2 linked regions of the Homo sapiens genome follow. The protein of the gene in region 1 binds, or shares a complex with, the protein of each later gene. Each region holds a gene or a part of one and is shown on either strand. Other genes may lie near its edges.

The links. The genes of interacting proteins can lie anywhere in the genome.
Region 2: TCF25 (region 1) and NEMF share a complex: the UniProt entries of both Homo sapiens proteins name them as parts of the ribosome quality control complex.

Annotation. Positions count from the first base shown.
Region 1 is NC_000016.10:89,904,361-89,911,659, forward strand, and holds the end of TCF25 (ribosome quality control complex subunit TCF25), read left to right. Parts: intron 1-577; coding exon 578-736; intron 737-1,833; coding exon 1,834-1,924; intron 1,925-2,882; coding exon 2,883-2,962; intron 2,963-6,230; coding exon 6,231-6,303; intron 6,304-6,719; coding exon 6,720-6,878; 3' UTR 6,879-7,019; downstream 7,020-7,299. UniProt on the Homo sapiens protein: Component of the ribosome quality control complex (RQC), a ribosome-associated complex that mediates ubiquitination and extraction of incompletely synthesized nascent chains for proteasomal degradation.
Region 2 is NC_000014.9:49,849,667-49,856,790, reverse strand, and holds the start of NEMF (ribosome quality control complex subunit NEMF), read left to right. Parts: upstream 1-4,002; 5' UTR 4,003-4,037; coding exon 4,038-4,096; intron 4,097-4,915; coding exon 4,916-4,984; intron 4,985-5,125; coding exon 5,126-5,228; intron 5,229-7,124. UniProt on the Homo sapiens protein: Key component of the ribosome quality control complex (RQC), a ribosome-associated complex that mediates the extraction of incompletely synthesized nascent chains from stalled ribosomes as well as their ubiquitin-mediated proteasomal degradation.

The sequences.
Region 1 (7,299 bases):
CTCTGGAGCCCTCATCTGTGTGGAAAAGTCCAGGTGGGACAGCTGAGCAGCCTCCAGCTTAAAAACGAGGCTCATATAAAGAGGGTGCCAGGCGTGGCGGCACATGCCTGTAATCTCAGCTTTTTGGGAGGCCGGCTTGTGCCTGGGAGGTCAAAGGTACAGTGAGCTGTGTTTGTGCTGCTGCACTCCAGCCTGGGTGATGGTGAGACCCCGTCTCAAAAAACAAAATAAACAAAGAGGGAGCAAACACAGGAGAAAGTGCACGCCTTGGGGTCATCCCCTGGCCCTCCAGGGCTCGCCCTGTGTGCACGCAGATGGACCCGCCCTGGGTGCATTTTCACATTTCTGTGACGTCAGTCCTGCTTCCTAAAGAACATAACCTGCCCAACAGGCTCACGGCACATACCTGTGTGCCCCAGCCCCACGCCCTCAGGCCAGCAGCCCAGGGGCCTCCTTTCACTCCAGGCCACAGGGCACTCCCTGGACCCCCCGTCTGCCCATCCATGGGGCTCTGCCAGCCTCGAGGCAGGCTGTGGTCTGAAGAGGGGTTCTGCTCAGAGCCCTTGCTCTCCCCCAGCCAGCCCCCTGCCCTGAGCCAGCTGGTGAACCTGTACCTTGGGAGGTCACACTTTCTCTGGAAAGAGCCCGCCACCATGAGCTGGCTGGAGGAGAACGTCCACGAGGTTCTGCAAGCAGTGGACGCCGGGGACCCAGCCGTGGAAGCCTGTGAGAACCGGTGAGCTAGGGGTTGACACAAGCCCTGCCACGCCCCCTCCTCAGGGACCCTCATCCCAGACACGGGGGCCTCGCATTCGGGAGGCGAGAAGGGCTGTGAGCAGCTTGGCCTCCCTTGCTGTGGGGCCTGTGTGGAGCCTACAAGACAGCGCACAGCCCCTGGCGTGTCCCAGAGGCTTCCTGGGAGGCAGCTGTGGTGATCAGCGCAGGGTACCGAGCTGCTGTTCCCGGGTGCCTCGGGCTGGAGTGGTGCCTTCGGGTCTTGCAGTGTTTCCACATGAGCTGTGAGATGATGACGAGTCTCTCACAGCAGCATCTTGGGAGTAAAGAAATCTGGCAGAGACGAGAAAGAGTCTCCTGTCCTGTGTGTGAACACTTCGGAGGCTCATGCCCTAATATGCTGCAACTGACAGGCATCCCCTTGCTGTTCTTGTCTCGTTTGTCTGCGCCCTTGGCCCTGTGCTAGTTCTGTGCATCAGCACCGTGGCTCTGTGCAGTGGTGTGGCCAGGCTCAGGACCGCCTGGGAGTGGTGCCCATTTGCATCTCCACAGTGAAGTCTGTGTGCCGCGGACATGAGGTGTGCCCGGGGGTGCCCAAGAGGCGCTGGTGCCCCCAGCCGCTGGCAGTCATGGGCCCGTCCGCGTGTCTGCTGTCCCCACTGGACTGGACATTCTCATGGACAGGAGCATTTTGTTCCCTGTACTGCTCTCCAAGAGCGATTTCCAGCAGGGACCAGTGCCTGTGCCTGTAGCCGTAGCAGTGACGATGGTGACACACCCAGGTGTCCCTTCATGGAGATGAACTCAGTGACTTCCCACAAGAAGCCACTGGCTACGGCTCTCATCGTTCTTGTTCTTTGGATGAAGAGGCTGAGTCACTGGCCATGTGGCTGGGATTGGTCCCCAGAGGCTCCCCAGCCGCAGGCCAGGGACCAGCCATGGTGCCTCTGCTCGAGAGTAAAGTGTACAGTTTTTGCAGCCACCAGAGATGCAGCGAGATGCCTCGTGCTGGGTGGGGGTGGGGGCCGAGGCTCCATGGCGGTTACCATTTCATTTGCTGTGCTTTATCTGCTGTGCCTTGTTTCTCCCCGGCCCTAGGCGGAAGGTGCTCTACCAGCGTGCACCCAGGAATATCCACCGCCATGTGATCCTCTCTGAGATCAAGGAAGCCGTCGCTGCCCTGCCCCCGGTAAGGGAGAAAGGCTGAAATGGGAGCTCTGTGTAAGCCGGTCACATGCACGTCCCTTCTGCTCCGGGCGGTCCACATGCAGGCGTGCGTGGTGCGGGCTCCCTCAGCAGCCCAGCCCCGCCACGGCAGGGGCAGGGTCTAGTGCAGAGGGCTCCTCCTTTCCTGGCAGCCCGGGTTCGGATGCTTGTTGTTTTGAGAGAGAAATCCTTTGGGGCTCAGAGCACAAGCTGAGTCGTCACCGTGGTGAGCTGCTCCATCCGTGGTCTTGTGAGCGCGTGGTGCGGCTGCTGGGGGATTCTCTGTAGTCGTGGGGTGTAGTCCTGCTCTGACGCCTCCTGTGCTGGAGGTGCCGTTTCTGTCTCAAAACCTAAGGAGTTTGTACTGTTGTTAAGGGATAAGATAGAACGAGTGAGAAAACCAGCAAGTCAGAGGGTCGCAGGACCGTGGACCGTCCACTGGGGACAGCTTAGTGCCTCCTGGTTTAACTTCAGCTGCTCTGCGGGCCCTTATGACCGGCATGGCTGGCTTTGTCTGGGGCTGTGAGCTTCTGACTCTCCTCAGTAGAGTGGCAGCACGTGGCACTGTGCAACCCGAGGGCAGCTCAGGGTCCCTGTAGCCTGCATTTGCTGAAGTGGGAGCTTCTGACACGTGGTGAAGATGTTGGCAGGCTTGAGCGGCACGTGACCCCCTTCCTTCCCCACCACACACTCTGGTGTGCAGGGCAGACGCCGTGCAGGTTCATCTCGACTCCCGTGAGTGTCCTGGTGGCAGAAGGACTGTCCCACCCTCACCCAAAGCTCGTTGGTACAAAAAGCACAGCCGTTTCTGTCAGACTCTGTGGCTATCTCTCAGCAGATGCATCCAGTCCATGCTGGAGTCGACAGAAGGACTCTGCTGGGAGAGGTAGAGGCCCCCTGGCAGCATCTGTAGCATCTTCGTTTTATGTCCCTTTCTGAAGGACGTGACCACGCAGTCTGTGATGGGGTTTGATCCTCTGCCTCCTTCGGACACAATCTACTCCTACGTCAGGCCAGAGAGGTACCTCCCTCCTTCCAGTTCCCACCTCCCAGCTCCCACCTCCCTCCTCCCAGTTCCCAGCTCCCAGCTCCCACCTCCCAGCTCCAACCTTCCAGCTCCCAGCTCCCACCTAGCAGCTCCCGGCTCCTGGCTCCCACCTCCCTCCTCCCACCTCCCACCTCCCAGCTCCCACCTCCCTCCTCCCACCTCCCACCTCCCTCCTCCCAGTTCCTACCTCCCATCTCCCAGCTCCCAGCTGCCACCTCCCAGCTTCTGCCTCCCTCCTCCCAGTTCCCACCTCCCAGCTCCCACCTCCCAGCTCCCGCCTCCCTCATCCTAGTTCCCACCTCCCAGCTCCCAGCTCCCTCCTCCCACCTCCCACCTCCCTCCTTTCACCTCCCACCTGCCACCTCCCGCCTCCCACCTTCCAGCTCCCGCCTCCCACCTTCCAGCTCCCGCCTCCCTCCTCCCAGTTCCCACCTCCCACCTCCCAGCTCCCACCTCCCAACTCCCTCCTCCCACCTCCCACCTCACCTCCCTCCTCCCTCCTTCCAATTCCCACCTCCCAGCTCCCAGTTCCCACCTCCCAGCTCCCGCCTCCCACCTCCCAGCTCCTGCCTCCCTCCTCCCAGTTCCCAGCTCCCACCTCCCTCCTCCCGCCGCCTAGCTCCCACCTCCCAGCTCCCGCCTCCCACCTCCCAGCTACCGCCTCCCTCCTCCCAGTTCCCAGCTCCCACCTCCTACCTCCCAGCTCCCGCCTCCCACCTTACAGCCCCTGTCTCCTCCCTCCTCCCAGTTCCCAGCTCCCAGCTCCCGCCTCCCTCCTCTCACCTCCCCTGCCACCTCCTGCCTCCCTCCTCCCAGCTCCCACCTTCCAGCTCCCGCCTCCCTCCTCCAAGTTCCCACCTTCCAACCCCGCCTCCCTCCTCTCAGTTCCCACCTCCCAGCTCCCACCTCCCAGCTCCCTCTTCCCTCCTCCCAGTTCCCACCTCCCAGCTTCCTCCTCCCACCTTCTAGTTCCCACTTCTTTCCTCACAGTTCCCACCTCCCAGCTCCCATCTTCCAGCTCCCAGCTCCCACCTCCCTCCTTCCAGTTTCCACCTCCCAGCTCCCACCTCCCACCTTCCAGTTCCCACCTCCTTCCTCGCAGTTCCCACCTCCCAGTTCCCACCTGCCAGCTCCCACCTCTTTCCTCGCAGTTCCCACCTCCCACCTTCCAGCTCCCACCTCCCAGCTCCCTCCTCCCACCTTCCAGTTCCCACCTCTTTCCTCGCAGTTCCCACCTCCCAGCTCCCGCCTCCCTCCTCCCAGCTCCCACCTCCCAGCTCCCACCTCCCACCTCCCAGCTCCCACCTCCCAGCTCCCACCTCCCTCCTCCCAGCTCCCACCTCCCGCCTCCCAGCTCCCACCTCCCGGCTCCCGCCTCCCAGCTCCCAGCTCCTGCCTCCCACCTGCCAGCTCCCAGCTCCCGCCTCCCTCCTCCCAGTTTCCACCTCCCAGCTCCCACCTCGCAGCTCCCAGCTCCCAGCTCCCACCTCGCAGCTCCCAGCTCTCTCCTGCAGCTCTGAGGTCAGGGCTTTGGGGCTCACAGGGACTGGCTGCCTCTTTCAGACCCAGATGCTGAGAGATGGGGCTCAGGGCTAAGTGGGTCTTTCCCCTCACAGGAAGGGAGAGGAGGAGAGGAACAGTGTTATTTGGGGGTCACAGCTCTGCGTTTGCAGGCCACGTTCTTTCCCATCTCCACCGAATGTACAAGCGCTTGCGTGTCGGCCTCTGTGGCAGGTGCGAGTGACACAGTGGAAGCAGGTGTGCAGTGAAGTGGGGAAAACATATTAATTTTAGAATGTAGAAATAAACATAAAATCAAAACTGCACCAGCCTGGCCAACATGGCAAACCCCGTCTCAACTAAAAATACAAAACTTAGCCAGCTGGGTGCAGTGACTCACGCCTGTAATTCCAGCAGTTTGAGAGGCCAAGGTGGGCAAATCACAAGGTCAAGAGATTGAGACCAGCCTGGCCAACGTGCTGAAAACCCGTCTCTACTAAAATACAAAAAAATTAGCTGGGCGTGGTGCCGCACACCTGTAGTCCCAGCTACTTGGGAGGCTGAGGCAGGAAAATTGTTTGAACCCGGGAGGCACAGGTTGCAGTGAGTGGAGATCGTGCCACTGCACTCCATCCTGGCGACAGAGGAAGACTCCGTCTCAAAAAAAAAAAAAAAAAAAAAAATTGGGCGTGGTGGGTTGTGCCTGTAGTCCCAGCTACTCAGGAGGCTGAGGCAGGAGAATCCCTTGAACCCGGAAGGAGGGGGTTGCCGTGAGCTGAGATCACGCCACTGCACTCCAGCCTGGGTGACAGAGTGACTCCATCTCAAAAAAAAAAAAAAAAAAAATCCTCCAGTAAGGTGTTTGGAGGAAGGATGGTGGCTGTGCTGAGACGGAGAGGATGAATGTGCCCTCACCAGGCTCAGGGGAGAGGGTCCTTGTGTTCCCCAGCAGAGTCACGATGTGCCGAGGCCCTGTGCCAGGAGCAGAGCACACGGCACATTGAGAGAACAAAAGCCCCATGGCCAGACCGGGAGAGCAGGGCTGCGGCGCAAGAGGGCCAACTGCCAGGCGGCCGGTGTGTCTGGCTTTCAGAATCCGGGTCATTGAAAGGCTTTTTACCTTTTCCTTCTGGGCTGGAAAGTACTTGCCTTACCCAGGCCCCGTCACCCGCACAGCGGTCGTCGTGATTATCCCTGCCGGCAGGGTGTTGCAGCATTGAGGAATCGCGGTTCTTTGCTGCCTCCCTCCGCTGTGGAGCCCAGGCTTTCGCCCTCCCTAGAGCTCCTGAGGCCTGGCCGCTCAGCGTCCTGTAGAGCCGGGCCGGTAGCCCTTCGCACCGTGAGGGTCTCCGCTTAACGCAGGCCCTGGAAGCTTCTGCCTTTGCGTAAGGAGTGGGTGCTGAAGGAGACGTTGAAACTGCAGCTTTTCTGAAAAGCAAGGCACCTGTGCAGTGGCCGAGGATGGCTGTGGGAGCCTCGCTCCGGACGCCACGCCTGCCTCAGCTGAGTTGGTCTCCCTCATCCTGTTCCCGCTGTCCACAGCCCCACCCTAAGCTGATGAGGAAGCCTCACGGGCCACCCGGGGAATCCAGGGCCTGTGCTCAGCTGCTGCTGCTCTGCCCCCTGGCGGCCCCTCCGTGTCCCTGCGAGGGAGGCAGCTGGCAGGCAGCCCCGTGAGCCGGGTTGGGTCCCACGAGTCTCAGTTCAGTGTCGTTTCTGACTTTTCTTGACTTTCTTTCAGGCTAAGTCCTATCAGCCATGGAAACACCATTGCTCTCTTCTTCCGGTCACTGTTGCCAAACTATACCATGGAGGTAGGTTGAGCTCGTCCCAGCCCCTGCCTCCCCAGTGGGTGCGGGCATATCCATTCCAGTGCGAATGCCTGGAGCCTCCTTGAACCAGGACTGTGCCAGCCGGCACAGGGAGCAGGGAAGGACCAAGGCTGCATTGTGCCAGTGGGGTGCCCATTCTGCCGGGGAAACTGGGGCCTGCCCAGATGGTAGCAGATGCAGGGCCGTGAGTCAGCCGGCTTGATCCCACTCTGTGCCTGGCTTGGTCTAGACACGGCATTTGGTTTTGAGAGCTTCCTCCTCACAGGGACCTGGGGAGGGTTCAGGGTCCGGTGCTGGGGCAAGGGCCACCTCGGGCTCCACAGTGCCTCCTGCTTGGGCCCCGGGCCCCTAGTCCCAGCACAGACAGCCCCCTTCTCAGACATGTCCCCTTGCTGCAGGGGGAGAGGCCCGAGGAAGGAGTGGCTGGGGGTCTGAACCGCAACCAGGGCCTGAACAGGCTGATGCTGGCTGTGCGCGACATGATGGCCAACTTCCACCTCAACGACCTGGAGGCGCCGCACGAGGACGACGCTGAGGGGGAGGGGGAGTGGGACTGAGCGTCCGCAGAGGTGACCGAAAAGCCGTATGATGATGTTCCCGATTTCTCTGTTGGTCGGAGTCGGCCAGTTGCCTGAAGTAGGGAAGCTGAGTGTGTCGCTCCCTGGTCCACTGTTTCTCCTATAAATGTAAATGGGTCACGCTCTGCCGTCCGCACCTTCTCCTTTCGCAGGCACTGAGCGCCGTCCCATGCCCTCGGATTCGAATCACACTCAGTCCATTCTCCTCCCAGTGGCTTGTGGGTGAGGTGGGGCCCAGACCCCATGCTTCCTGTGCTCCCAGGATCTGGGCACGGGTGGAGAAGGGGCCCCACGGGGTCTTCAGTGCAGGTCCCTGCTGAATGCCAAGGCCCTGGGTGCACGTCCTCCTTGAACTTGCTGTGGAGTTCGTCAACAGAGCTGCGTGCCTTGTTGGTAGAGG
Region 2 (7,124 bases), on another chromosome or scaffold:
GTGCATAAGACATACACATAATGTAAGTTTAAGGAATTTATAAAGTGAGAAACTATATAATTGGCATCTAGAAATAGAACTTTGCCTGCATCCCAGAAACCCGCACCCAAGTACCTTTCCTCTTAGAAATAACCACTATTCTGACTTCGTGGCATTCTCTTGTTATTCTTAATGGTTTTTAGTGCCTGAATATATCTCTAAATAATATTTGAACGGTCTTTACTACCGGAAAGTTCTTCCTTATGTTAAGATTTAATCCATTGCCCTAAAATTTTTTCATTAGTACTTTCTTTAACCCTTGGGGTTATAAATAACAAATTTAGCATTATTTTTACCCAGAAGAACCACAACTATTTTTTGTATTACATGGTTTCAATTGAATTCCACTATTCTGTTTGTTCCATTTGTATGTCTTTCTGGGAAAATATGATTCCCCAGTACACAACAATGTATTCTATCTCTGATTTACTCTCTAAGCATAGGACTGAAAAATCCCATCTCTCATTCTAGATTCCAGACATCTATTGATGAGGCCAAACATAGTGATGGTTAATGCTAAGCTTATAAGAGACTAAAATATTTTATATAAGACAGTGCCTGGGGCTCAGTTTCGGGCTACTGAAAAAAGAAATGGGAATGGTTTCCTTATAAAAGGATGAGTTTGGTCCTCTTGTCTCTCTCATTCTCTCGTTGCTCTTCCACCATGGGATGTAACACCAAGAAAGCCCTTTCAAGATGCCAGTCCTTTGATCTTGGACTTCCTAGTCTCCAGGACTGTGAGGCATTAAATTTATGTTCTTTATAAATTACTTAGTTTGTGGTGTTCTGTTATAGTAGTGTAAAATGAATTATGGGAACAAATAAAATTTGCATATATTTGAGGTGTGTATATATATATAAATATGTTATATATTATATAAATATATTATACATATTATATAAATATTATATAAATATATTATACATATTATATAAATATATTATACATATATCTATATATATAAATATTATATATATATATATTTTTTGAGACAGGGTTTCCCTCTTGTTGCCCAGGCTAGAGTACAATGGCACAGTCTCGGCTCTTTGCAACCTCCACCTCCTGGGTTCAAGTGATTCTCCTGCCTTAGCCTCCCAAGTAGCTGGGATTACAGATGCCTGCCACCACGCCCGGCTAATTTTTGTATTTTTAGTAGAGACAGGGTTTCAGCATGTTGACCAGGCTGATCTTGAACTCCCAACCTCAGGTTATACACCCACCTTGGCCTCCCAAAGTGCTGGGATTACAGGCGTGAGCCACTGCAGCCGGCCAATTTTTTTTTTTTTTTTTTTTTTTTTTTTTTATTAGACAGGGTGTTACTCTGAAGCTCCTGCTGGAGTGTGGTGGCACAATTATGGCCACCATGCCTTGACCTCCTGGGCTGAAGGGATCCTCCTGCCTCAGCCTCCCATGTAGCTGGGACCATAGGTACATGCCATCACACCTGGCTAATTTTTTTATTTTTTTGTAGAGATTGGTGAGGGGGCCTCACTATGTTGTCCGGGCTGGTCTTCTGGGCTCAGGCCATCTGCCAGCCTTGGCCTCCCAAGGTGTTGGAATTATAGGTGTGAGCAACCCGGCCCAGCCATGTGATGTTTTGATGTATGTATACACTGTGAGATGATTACTACAATCAAGCCAATTAACACATCCATAACCTCACACTTTGTATGTGTGTATTTGATATCCACTTTCTTAGCAAATTTCTGTTTTTTATTTTAATTTAACTTTTATTTTAAGTTCATGGGGTATATGTGCAGGTTTGTTATATAGGTAAATTTGTGTCATGGGGTTTGTTTTACAGGTTATTTCATCACCCAGGTATTAAACCTAGTACCCATTAGTTATTTTTGCTGACCCTCTCCCTCCTCCCATTCTCCACCCTCTGATAAGCGCCAGTGTGTGCTGTTCCCCTCCATGGGTCCATGTGTTCTCATCATTCAGCTCCCATTTATAAGTGAGAACATACGGTATTTGGTTTTCTGTTCCCATGCAAATTTCAAGCATACAATACATTACTATGAACTATAATCAGCATGTTGTACATTAAGTCTCCATAACTTACTCTACTTACAACCGAAAGTTTGTGCATTTTGACCAGTATCTTCCCATTTCCCCTACATCCCAAGTCCTGGAAACCACATTTCTGCTGTCTGTTTCTATGAGAAACTTCTAGATTCCACGTATAAGTGAGATCATGCAGTATTTGTCTTTTTATGTCTGGCTTATTTCACTTAGCATAATGTCCTCCAGGTTCATCCATGTTGTTAAATCCATGCCAGTTGCAAACAGCAAGATTTATTTCTTTTTTGAAAGCTGAATAATATTCCACTGTATGTATGTATGTGTGTGTGTGTGTGTGTGTACATATATATTTGCACTCATTATCCGTTCATCCATTGATGAAAAGTAGATTATCCCTATATCTTGGCTATTGTGAATAATGCTGCAATGAACATGAACATATATCTTCAGGATAGTGATGTTGTTGCTAGATCACATGGTAATTCTATTCTTAATTTTGTGAGGAGCCTTTATACTGTTTTGCACAATGGCTCTACTAATTTACATTCCCATCAACAGCATACAAAAGTTCCCTGTTCTCCACCTTCTCCCCAATGCTTTCATATTTTGGGCCATTCTGTATGGTTTACTGTACCGTATGACAGTAATGCTGTGCAGTATGTGCTATAGCCATTTTTGCATCTACTGGTACCAGTTCTGAAATAGCAGCGGCGCCCTTTCTGTTTAGAGTCGCCTTCTGGTGGTAGGAATTCTGGTTGCTACCATGTGTAGCCTGCAAGCCTCTAGCAGCTCTTTTGCAGCGACGCCGAGCGCCGGGCGCGGTGGCGCGTGCCTGTAGTCCCAGCTACTCGGGAGGCTGAGGCTGGAGGATCCCTTGAGTTCAGGAGTTCTGGGCTGTAGTGCGCTATGCCGATCGGGTGTCCGCACTGAGTTCGGCATCAATATGGTGACCTCCCGGGAGCGGGGGACCACCAGGTTGCCTAAGGAGGGGTGAACCGGCCCAGGTCGGAAACGGAGCAGGTCAAAACTCCCGTGCTGATCAGTAGTGGGATTGCGCCTGTGAATAGCCACTGCACTCCAGCCTGGGCAACATAGTGAGACCCTGCCTCTTTTGAGTTCTCACCTTATAAAGTAGCCTTTCTTCCCATGCATCTATCCTAAGACAAAAGAAATGCAGAATTTACATTCTTACAGGACTATTTTCCTCACTACACTGTGAATCCCCCCTCCCACCCCACCCCCATTGGGAATCTTCTTGTTTTTATTTTTATCTTATTTCACCATTATCTAGCTAAACACTTGCACATTCATGCTGCCAAGTGTTTATGGAGCACCGATTGTACACCAGGTACTGCGGTGAGTCTCAGGGGTACCAAGACCGAGGTTCGATGAGAATCCTGTAATCAATTGCAGAATGCTCCTTCCGAGAGCAGGACCCATCAAAATAGGAACTCCGTTTTGAGAGTTCGCCTCGATCGTTGAGGATAATCTTAGAAGGACCGAAGCAGTTCCGTTTCGTTACATTTCAAAATCTTATGTCAAAGTAAGCGCGCAGAAAGGGGTCCTTGCTCTTCTACACTGAGCCCTACGGCCCCCCTGTGGGGAAATACTCCTGATAATCATCTCGAAAATTGTTTCGACCAGCAGGGGTCACTATGAAGGCTGACTTGAGCCCAAGACACAATGGGGCACGGTAACCAGACTGGTCCGTAAGGGTTCCAGGAAGGAATGCAGTTTCAAGAGAACAGTTTGAATCTTTATTCGAATTTGAATTTTGGTACAATGAAGAGAGTCAGCTGCAACTTGACAATCGAAATCTTCAGAAAAGCGACACAAATACGTTCGCCTCGAGGAATATTGGGTCTTCTGCGCGGCCGTAGAGCTCCGCCAAGTGCGCCTGCGCGGAGGAGAAGTGGCGTCGAGTCCGGCCGGGCAGTAGAGGAACTTGCGGTAGTGACCCTCGGGCCTCGCCATGAAGAGCCGCTTTAGCACCATTGACCTCCGCGCCGTACTCGCGGAGCTGAATGCTAGGTACAGTACCCTAAGTGACGAGGCTCGTGTGGGGAGTGCAGGAGGCAGAGGCCGGAGTCCCATGGCGCAAACAGACCAGCTTGATATGTTTCCTTATTTCCTAGTGCGTCTATGGACCTGCCTAGGCCTGAGTGGGCAGGCGTGTGGTGTCTTTCCCGTGACCCTTAGGATACCCCTGGGGGTCCCAGGCACCTCGTGCCCCATCCCCCGCGTCCTCCCAGCTCTCTGGCTTGCCCCGCTAGCGCGAAGCTCTTGCATTGTTGGCCTGGGTTGTCCGGGTTGGGCAGGAAACGTTTGTTAAAACACGAGACGCCAGAGTGGTCGTTTGCTTCAGAGGTTTCCAGACTGGGGGCTTGGTTTCTTGAACACCTCCCTCCCCTCACCCCAGAGAGAGAGAGAGCATCGCGGTTTTAGCTGGATTGAGCAGATTTGGACTGAGATCTGGATTCTAGTCTGGATTCTATTATTCAGCCCTGTGAGCTTTGTCATATTTTCGGGGCCCTCTTTTATCTTTTTTTTTTCTCCCTTGTAATAAATTAATTGGATTATATTTTACTGTATTTCTCCCCCAAAATTGGGTCATTTGGAAGACGCAAGCTATAGTGTGTTGTTCCTAGAGCTGATAGACCACTTCTGTTTTTAAATCGTTACTCTTAAGTTTTGAACTGAATCTCCAAATGGCTTTCAGACTCTGCTCCTCGGCTGACTCCATATCCTTAGAGACTGAGATCCGCTCTTTCGAAGCTTTTATTAAATTATGTGTAGTTTTATGTTTCAGACAATAGTGTAACATGTTACATGTTTCCTTTATCTTTGCAGCTTGCTAGGAATGAGAGTAAACAATGTTTATGATGTGGATAATAAGACATACCTTATTCGTCTTCAAAAGTAAGAACATTTTATAGGCTTATTTTCTCTTTGACAATTAAGTATGAGATTACTGATTTTTTTTAACCTACATTTTAAGCCTGTTTAGCAATTAGCTTTGGCATATACCCTAAAGAAAAATTCGACTTTTTTCTTCTACAGACCGGACTTTAAAGCTACACTTTTACTTGAATCTGGCATACGAATTCATACAACAGAATTTGAGTGGCCTAAGAATATGATGCCGTCTAGTTTTGCCATGAAGGTAAACTTGTTACGCTTGAAGCTAAATTTTAAGAGATTGCTCACTAACAATTAAGTTTTTAATTGGGGTTTCCTTCACTGTTACGAATAAAGTGCAGATAAAATGAAGGTAAAGGGAGTGGTTGACAGATAATGGGTTGAATAAAGTGAATATTTATTAATTGATTTCTCCCCATTACCTTTCACATCCTGTTCTGCTCCAGATCTTCTGTTTCCACAGTCACTATTAGAGTTCAAGCTTTTATCACATTCAGCCTTACAGTTCCTTAACTGTAATTCACTTCTCTGCATCAAAACAATTCTAAATTAGACCAACGTTAATTTTTTTGTTTTTGTTTGTTTGTTTTTTTGTTCGTTTTTGAGAAGGAGTCTCGCTCTGTCACCCAGGCTGGAGTGCAGTGGCACAGTCTTGGCTCACTGCAACCTCTGCCTCCCAGGTTCAAGTGATTCTCTTGCCTCAGCCTCCTCAGTAGCTGGGATTACAGGCGTGTGCCACCAGACCCGGCTAATTTCTCTATTTTTAGTAGAGATGGGGTTTCACCATGTTGGCCAGTCTGATCTCAAATGCGTGACCTCAGGTGATCCGCCAGCCTCAGCCTCCTGAAGTGCTGGGATTACAGGCATGAGCCACCGCGCCTGGCCCAACATTAATTTTTTTAAAGTATAATTTTCATTAGTTACCTCACCTTTTATGGTTTCCTGATTTCTAAATCCATATTCTATAGCCTAACATTCTTGGCTTTCTGTGTTCTTTCTCCTCCCTGCCCCACCTTTTTTTCCTAGTCTTATCTTCCAGAGCTCACTTTTGTGAGTCGTATTCCTCTGTACCCAGTCAGTATTTTTTTTTTTTTGGAATACTCACTGACATTAATATGTTACTAAGTCTTTTTATTTTTCTGTTTTGTTTTTACTATTAAAACAGATTTTTACATGGGTGGGCATGCTACCCATTCTTTTATTGATGTAACATATAGATTGAAAATTCATGTGGTACACGAGACTTTCGAGTCACATATACTTAACTTTGAATTAATAGCTTTGTCAGAAAGTAATTTTATAACCTGGAAAAGTTACTTAACCTCTTGGAATTTAGTTTCTTTAAATGTAAAATGTGGATAGTACCTCCTTCATGAAATTATTGGATTAATTGAAATGATATATAAAACACCTAAAACAGACCAGGTGCGGTGGCTCATGCCTGTAATTCCAACACTTTGGGAGGCTGAGGCAGGTGGATCACTTGAGGTCAGAAGTTCAAGGCCAGCCCAGCCAACATGGTGAAACCCTGTCTCTACTAGCCAGGCGTGGTGGCACACACCTGTAATTCCAGCTACTTGGGAGGATGGGGCAGGAGAACCACTTGAACCTGGGAGATAGAGATTGCAGTCAGCTGAGTTCGCACTGTTTCACTCCAGCCTGGGCGACAGAGCGAGACTCCATCTAAAAAAAAAAGAAAGGCACCTGAAACAATACCTGACACATATTAGAACTCCATACATGTTCATTTCCTTCCTGCTCCGCTCCTTACTTTGGCAATGTATCTGTTATGGCATTGAGTTATTTCATTAGAGGCTTTACAGAGAAGAGCTTTACCCCCCAGCAATTTAGAGTCTGTTTTGGATTACAAATTAGGTAAGTGTTTCCATATCACAAGGGCTTTCACAAAATTCTCAGATTATTAAAGTTTAATTTATTTAATAGTAACCCAAAATAGTTCTTTTGGGGCCTGTCCTTAATAATAATGACAATAATAATGCTACCTGTTGTGTAGCACTTTTTAAGGCAGATGAATAATATGTATTTCATTTAAGTTGTTTAGCAACTCAGTGGACTGTGAAGAACAAATACAATTTCAGTTTTATGGATGAGGTAACAGGCCAATGAAATAGGACACTGG